Linked DNA regions of Homo sapiens. The protein of the gene in region 1 purifies or fractionates together with the protein of each later gene. This does not show direct contact. Each region holds a gene or a part of one and is shown in the gene's direction. Other genes may lie near its edges.

The links. The genes of interacting proteins can lie anywhere in the genome.
Region 2: the proteins of AARS1 (region 1) and NMD3 fractionate together in Homo sapiens (co-fractionation; one large-scale study listed by BioGRID). This does not show direct contact.

Annotation. Positions count from the first base shown.
Region 1 is NC_000016.10:70,265,107-70,269,287, reverse strand, and holds part of AARS1 (alanine--tRNA ligase, cytoplasmic), read left to right. Parts: intron 1-908; coding exon 909-1,017; intron 1,018-1,478; coding exon 1,479-1,629; intron 1,630-3,625; coding exon 3,626-3,750; intron 3,751-4,181. UniProt on the Homo sapiens protein: Catalyzes the attachment of alanine to tRNA(Ala) in a two-step reaction: alanine is first activated by ATP to form Ala-AMP and then transferred to the acceptor end of tRNA(Ala). Also edits incorrectly charged tRNA(Ala) via its editing domain.
Region 2 is NC_000003.12:161,224,311-161,227,810, forward strand, and holds part of NMD3 (60S ribosomal export protein NMD3), read left to right. Parts: intron 1-619; coding exon 620-754; intron 755-2,936; coding exon 2,937-3,033; intron 3,034-3,500. UniProt on the Homo sapiens protein: Acts as an adapter for the XPO1/CRM1-mediated export of the 60S ribosomal subunit.

The DNA of each region.
Region 1 (4,181 bases):
AGTGCAATGGCCCGATCTTGGCTCACCGCAACCTCCACCTCCTGAGTTCAAGCAATTCTTTTCCCTCAGCCTCCCGAATAGATGGGATTACAGGCATGAGCCACCATGCCTAGTTTTGTATTTTTAGTAAAGATGGGGTTCCTTCCATGTTGGTCAGGCTGGTCTCAAACTCCCAACCTCAGGTGATCCGCCCGCCTCGGCCTCCCACAGTGCTGGGATTACAGGCGTGAGCCACCGTGCCCGGCCAGAGGTGGGGTTTTGCCATGTTGGCCAGGCTGGTCTCGAACTCCTGACCTCAGATGATCCACCTGCTACGACCTCCCAAAGTGATGGGATTACAGGTGTGAGCCACCATGCCCGGCCTCTTTATGAAACTTAAAGCCATCTTTCGTTATTGTTTCCTTGTCTTGGGCAGGTGGAAGAATCCCCCACCCCTTTTTTAAGGGATGAAGGGAGTTTCAGCTAGTGTCACAGAGTTGCCACTATATTAAATCTCTGCTGCTGAGTACAGATGATAAGGATTGTATTCAAAGTTGCCTGATAGGAGATTGGCAGGGGCAGGGTGAGGGTAGGTATTGACCAGCCCTGGGAATCTCTCTTACTGACAGGCAGGACCTGGGATCACAGGCATCAAGTACACATCTGGTCTGTCCATCTTTCCTCCCTCTATGGGTAACTGAATGTGAAAGGAAAACAAACCAGCGTTTACCCTAGGGAAGCCTTGACGGGTATTTGTGGGTATGTTACTGAGTCTTGTGCTAAAATTAATGACCTTGGGGAATGCGAAAGAAGCAGGCTTAGGATAAAAGAAAGTTCCTGAAAGAGGTGTTGCTTTGGGTAGGATTCCAAGGGACTCAAGACAAAACCCTCAGCTGGGAACGTTGGGGACTAGTTTTTGCCTCTTACAGATATGTGTTGAGACGGATTCTCCGCCGAGCTGTCCGATACGCCCATGAAAAGCTCAATGCCAGCAGGGGCTTCTTTGCTACGTTAGTGGATGTTGTCGTCCAGTCCCTGGTAGGTTTATTTCTCTGCTTACCCTTCTGTGCTAAAGCAGTCCGTTAAGAGGGATGGAGTGGGAGAGGGCATACTGTTAAGCAGCTTTTTGTTGCTGTTTTTTGAGACGGAGTCTCACTCTGTCACCCACGCTGGAGTGCAATAGAGTGATCTTGGCTCACTGCAACCTCTGTCTCCTGGGTTCAAGCGATTCTCCTGTCTCAGCCTTCCGAATAGCTGGGATTACAGGTGCACACCGCCAAGCCTGGCTAATCTTTTCTGTTTTAGTAGAGACAGGGTTTCACCGTGTTGCCCAGGCTGGTCTTGAACTCCTGAGCTCAGGCAATCCACCTGCCTCGGCTTCCCAAAGTGGTAGGATTACAGGCGTGAGCCACTGCACCCAGCTAAGGAGCTTTTTTAAGACGGGGCAGGGAACAGTCTCTGGCTTCATCCAGCCCCTCATCTTGCTTCCCCTTTGTCAGGGAGATGCATTTCCTGAGCTGAAGAAGGACCCAGACATGGTGAAGGACATCATTAATGAAGAAGAGGTGCAGTTTCTCAAGACTCTCAGCAGAGGGCGTCGCATCCTGGACAGGAAAATTCAGAGCCTGGGAGACAGCAAGACCATTCCCGGTAGGTACCAGTTTTTGCCCTTCTCCATCCTGGCCGTTTGATCTTTCTGGGAAAGACAAGCCCTTTCTGACAGACTGACTGTGGGCTCTCATGTCTCTGAGGCTGAACATAGCTTGATTGAATTGCTTTTGGTGCAAACTGGAATTTATAGTAAAATGGTAAAAGTAATGCATCATTGTGGCCAAAGTATTCAAACAATACAGAATACAAAAGTGTTCAGAAAATGAAAATCCTCTTTTCCACACTCATTTCTCAGAGGGAACAACTCTTAATGGTTTGGTGTAGAACTCTTCAGGATTCTTCTCTGTTTGCATGCAAATACATGTAGATATTTGTGTGTGTGTATTTTTCAAGCAAAAGTGGGAATATTTGGTATGTACTGTTTTGCAATTTGGGGAAAATTAATTCCAAAGATTTTCTCCCCAGTTTCCAAAGATTCTTTATTGAAGTATAATGAACAAGGGAAAAGCTTGATGAATTTTCACAAATTGAACACACATTCAGATCAAGAAATAGATTTGTCAGCTGGGTGTGGTGGCTCACACCTGTAATCCTAGCACTTTGGGATGCCGAGGCGGGCGGATCACGAGGTCATGAGTTCAAGACCAGCCTGCCCAACATGGCAAAACCCCGTCTCTACTAAAAATACAAAAAATTAGCTGGGTGTGGTGGCATGCGCCTGTAATCCCAGCTACTTGGGAGGCTGAGACAGGAGAATTGCTTGAACCGGGGAGGCGGAGGTTGCATTGAGCCAAAATCATGCCACTGCACTCCAGCCTGGGCAACAAGAGCGAAACACCATCTCAAAAAGAAAAAGAAAAAGAAATAGATGTGTAAGGCTGGGCACAGTGGCTCACACCTTTAATCCCATCACTTTGGGAGGCTGAGGCAGGCAGATCACCTGAGGTCAGGAATTTGAGACCAGCCTGGCCAACATGGTAAAACCCCATCTCTACTAAAAATGCAAAAATTAGCCATGCATGATGGCGGGCACCCATAATCCCAGCTACTCGGGAGACTGAAGCAGGAGAATCGCTTGAATCCTGGAGCTGGAGAGTGCAATGAGCCGAGATCACACCAGTACACTCCAGCCTGGGCAACAGAGTGAGACTCTCAAAAAAAAAGAAATAGAAAATTGTCCAGGTGAGGTTGTTTTTGTTTTTGAGATGGAGTCTCACTCTGTTGCCCAGGCTGGAGTGCAGTGGTGTGATCTCAGCTCACTGCAAGCTCCGCCTCCCAGGGTCATGCCATTCTCCTGCCTCAGCCTCTCTAGTAGCTGGGACTACAGGTGTCCGCCACCGCGCCTGGCAATTTTTTTATTTATTTTTTTTTATTTTTTATTTTTGAGACAGAGTCTTGCTCTGTCGCCCAGGCTGGAGTGCAGTGGCGCTATCTCGGCTCACTGCAAGCTCCACCTCCCGGGTTCACGCCATTCTCCTGCCTCAGCCTCCCGAGTAGCTGGGACTACAGGCGCCCGCCACCATGCCCGGCTAATTTTTTTGTATTTTTAGTAGAGACAGGGTTTCACCGTATTGGCCAAGATGGTCTCGATCTCCTGACCTCCTGATCCGCCCGCCTCGGCCTCCCAAAGTGCTGGGATTACAGGCGTGAGCCACAGCGCCTGGCCAAATTTTTTGTATTTTTCCTAGAGACGGGGTTTCACCATGTTAGTCAGGATGGTCTCAATCTCCTGACCTCATGATCCGCCCGCCTCGGCCTCTCAAAGTGCTGGGATTACAGGCGCGAGCCACGGTGCCCAGCCCAGGTGAGGTTTAAAAAACAAAACAAAACAAAACAGAATTGTATCAGGACATCCATTGTGCTTCCCCCAGGTTAACTGAAAAAGATGTGCTGGATTTTCTGATGGGCACACAGGGCCGATACTGATAGCCTTGTGTCTTTAATTCCTTCTGCCAGTCCCAGCATCCTTTTGGAGGGCTTGGCATGGAAAAGGGGCTGTCTGTTTTTTTTGACACACCTCCTTTGTGCTGTGTAGGAGACACTGCTTGGCTCCTCTATGACACCTATGGGTTTCCAGTGGATCTGACTGGACTGATTGCTGAAGAGAAGGGCCTGGTGGTAGACATGGATGGCTTTGAAGAGGAGAGGAAACTGGCCCAGGTAAAGAACTTGGAGAGTGAACAGGAAACCCAACACCTTCCAACCCAGCACCACTTGGCTGCAGACTGAGCATGAGTTTCCTTCCATTAAAGTCTTTGAAGTGCTTTTTCCCCTAGATCAGTGGTTCTCAAGTGGGGGCGAGTCTGCCTTCCAGGGAGTAATTGGCGATAATGTCTGAAGACATTTTTGATTTTCACAACTAGGGGCAGATCCTGCTGTCACGTACTTGGTAGAGGCCAGGGTGCCCCTCAGCATCCCACACTGCAAGAGAAGTTTCCACAACAGAGAATGATCTGGCCCCAAATGTCAGTAGTGCCAGGATTGAAAAACCCTGTTCTGGCAGTTTATGCTGGGCATAGTTTAGCAAGTTCCAGTCCTTTGGAGTCCCTTTTCTCCTACTTTACGGTAACTTATGCTTGTTTCTCTTGCTG
Region 2 (3,500 bases), on another chromosome or scaffold:
AGAATAGAACATTTCTGTCGTGGCATGAAATTCTGTTGGACAGTACTGACCTTCTAGAACCTTTAGGACATCGGCCTTATATTGAGGATTTTTAGAATTATAGCCATTTTTGGTGTTTTTGCCCCTGTATTACAGGGTTATTCTTTATCTACTGCATCTTTGAAGATTGCTTTGTTTCTTTTTTTTGTTTCTTTTTTTTGAGACATTGTCTTGGTCTGTCACCCAGGCTGGAGTGCAGTGGCGTGATCTGGCTCACTGCAACTTCCACCTCCTGGGTTTGATATGCATGCCTCAGCCTCCCAAGTAGCTGGGATTACAGGCGTGCGCCACCATGCCTGGCTAATTTTTGTATTTTTAGTAGAGATGGGGTTTCACCATGTTGGCGAGGCTGGTCTTGAACTCCTTATCTCAGGTGATCTACCCGCCTCAGCCTCCCAAAGTGCTGGAATTACAGGTGTGAGCCACTGGCTGGCCCAGGTTGCTTTGTTTCTGTTATTTTTTTGAAAAGGGCAAAGATGCTGTGGCCTAACTTGAAGGCTTTTGTTTGTTTGGCATCTAAAAAAAAATTTAGTGTATTTTAAAAATCTAATGTGAAAAATTTATCCTTTATTTATTAAAGCTTGTGCTGTGAGTGTGGTGTTCCGATAAGTCCAAATCCTGCCAATATTTGTGTGGCCTGTTTGCGAAGTAAAGTGGACATCAGCCAAGGTATTCCGAAACAAGTCTCGATTTCGTTCTGCAAACAATGTCAAAGGTACAGTGCGGTACAATTTTGCTCTTTTTAAAGTTGGAATTTACATTTAGAGAACCACCGAGATATGCTGAGATTACACGAAGGTATATGGAGTAAAGTGCATGCAATTAAGGTTTAAATTTTCTGTTGGTGTCGCCAAAGATTTTAGAATTTGCAATTTTATAGTGTACTTTTCTAGTGTGTCCTTCTAATCTGGTAAAGATAGTGTAAATGTATTTGAATCTGTTCTTCTGTTAAAGGATCTAATAGATTTGATGTATATAGTTAATAGGAGTTGATGTTTGTAAGGGTGAGAGCAGATTATTGAGGACATATTGTTATTATGAGGTTTTTTTTTCTTTAGTTATTAGAAGCCATGTATGATAAAAAGCTTATGTTTGGAGTAATTTAGTAATATGTTTTAAAAACTCATAACATTCACGTGTAATTAAAATAACTATTGTTGATGGAAAAGAAGCTCAATAAATTATATCTGGAATGGTCTGAAATAAAGATTGGATTTGAAGGAAGAAGACTTCTTCTGAATGTTAATGTTTCATTCCTCTTGATTTTCTTTGTCAGCATAAACAACTTACATCTATTAGGCCATTGAGTAACACAAAACTGCCTAATGAGTGTAAAAGTGTATGCCTGTTATTTCCAAAATGGATTAAGACGCTAACTTTTTGAGTGTGTATCTCTAGAGGGGTGGTTCATGGACTCCTTTGAGAATTTGAAAACTGTATCTCTTCCCCAAAATATTTACATACATGTATATATATGTGTGTGTGTGTGTATATATGTAAAAATATATATGTGTGTGTGTGTATATATACATATATATACACAAACACATGAAACTGTGTACTGTTTCAGGGAGTTTACAGTGTATAAGCTTAGCAAGTGTGAGGCTTAATCTTTTATAAATATTTGCTATTAAAAGCCTGGTGGAGTTAGAAAAGTACTGATAAAGAACTAAACAGACTTAGTTTGTCTTGGCTTCCTCACAAACTAGCTGTTTGAAACTCTTAGCTGTTTATCATCTCTGGGCCTCAATTTCCTCATCAGAATGAAGGGTTTTATTAGGTGATATGTGAAGCCCTTTCTAACTCTAAACGTTTACTCATAGGCCAGGCTTGGTGGCTCACGCCTGTAATCCAAGCACTTGAGGAGGCTGAGGCGGGTGGATCACCTGAGGTCAGGAGTTCGAGACCAGACTGGCCAACATGGTGAAACCCTGTCTCTACTAAAAATACAAAAATTAGCCAGGCGTGGTGGGGCACGCATGTAATCCTAGCTACTCGAGAGGCAGGAGAATCGCTTGAACCCGAGAGGCAGAGGTTGCAGTGAGCCGAGATCATACACTGCACTCCATCCTGGGGGATGGAGCGAGACTCTGTCTCAAAAGAAAAAAGGAAAAAAAAATACGAAATAAATATGTACTTATAAACAAAGGGAGACCTGTGTAATGTTTTTGATTGAACCTTGAAAAGTGAAAGTCAAAACTTTCTGTTATGTAACAAGTATGGCAAAAAGACATTCACATAACATGTTTGGAAGTATTTTATATTTAGCAAGCATTTATTGAACACCTACTATAAGATGTATGTGGCATAGTGCTAAGTCCTGGGTAGGCAGGACTAAAAACCTTAAAGCACATATGTAAGAGATTTAAGTTTTGTTTTAGTCTGGTTTTACCCAAGATTTTAAATGTTGTTTTACAATTTACAATTTGAAAAGGACTTGAAATGTAGATGAATAGACTGAACTATTGCTGATTTATAGTGTTGTGAGGTACTAATGTACCTTTTTTTTGTGAAAAATAAGCAGTTCTCAGGCATTTTAGAAGTACATAATAAACCATTTTAATGCCATTTTGAGATGATTCTCACCTGTTTTTCAGAGCATAGCTTTAAGAGACTCTTGGACATTTTAGTGGTGATTTGGTGATTAAAGTAATAAGATCACTTTAGTAGGTTATTTCAGATTGACTTTCTCAGTCAGAATTTTACCTTTTTAATTAAAGCTGCTAGTCTAGTTGAAAGTTTTGGAACCATTAAAATATGTTTGAGTTAAGTGCTTCATATCATCCTTGGGTTTTATTATGCCTGGTTAATAATTTGGGTTATATCTGTGTATTCAGATGGAAATTTCTGTGTTTCCTGACAGATGTTGGATTTCAGTATGTTATCTTCTCTTTTAGGTATTTTCAACCACCAGGAACTTGGATACAGTGTGCTTTAGAATCCAGGGAACTTCTTGCTTTGTGCTTGAAAAAAATCAAAGCCCCTCTGAGTAAGGTAAGTTAAACAGCTAAAATCAGTATTCATAGGTATGTTTTCATTAAAGGTCTCATTTTCAGAAAATTCTTGTGAGTAGGTTTTTCAAAAGGAATTTTTTTTTTTTTTTTTTTTTTTGAGGTGGGGTCTTGAACTGTCACCTGGGCTAGGCTAGAGTACAATGGTGTGATCTCGGCTCACTGCAACCTCTGCCTCCCGGGTTCACACGATTCTCCTGCCTCAGCCTCCCAAGTAGCTGGGATTATAGGCGCACACCACCACATCTGGCTAATTTTTTGTATTTTTAGTAGAGACAGGGTTTCACTATGTTGGCCAGATTGGTCTCGAACTCCTGACCTCGTGATCTGCCTGCCTCGGCCTCCCAAAGTGCTGGGATTACAGGCGTGAGCCACCATGCTGGCCTCGAAAGTAACTATTAAATGTTACTATTGTTGCCAGTAGCACCCCACTACAAACACTTTTTAAAG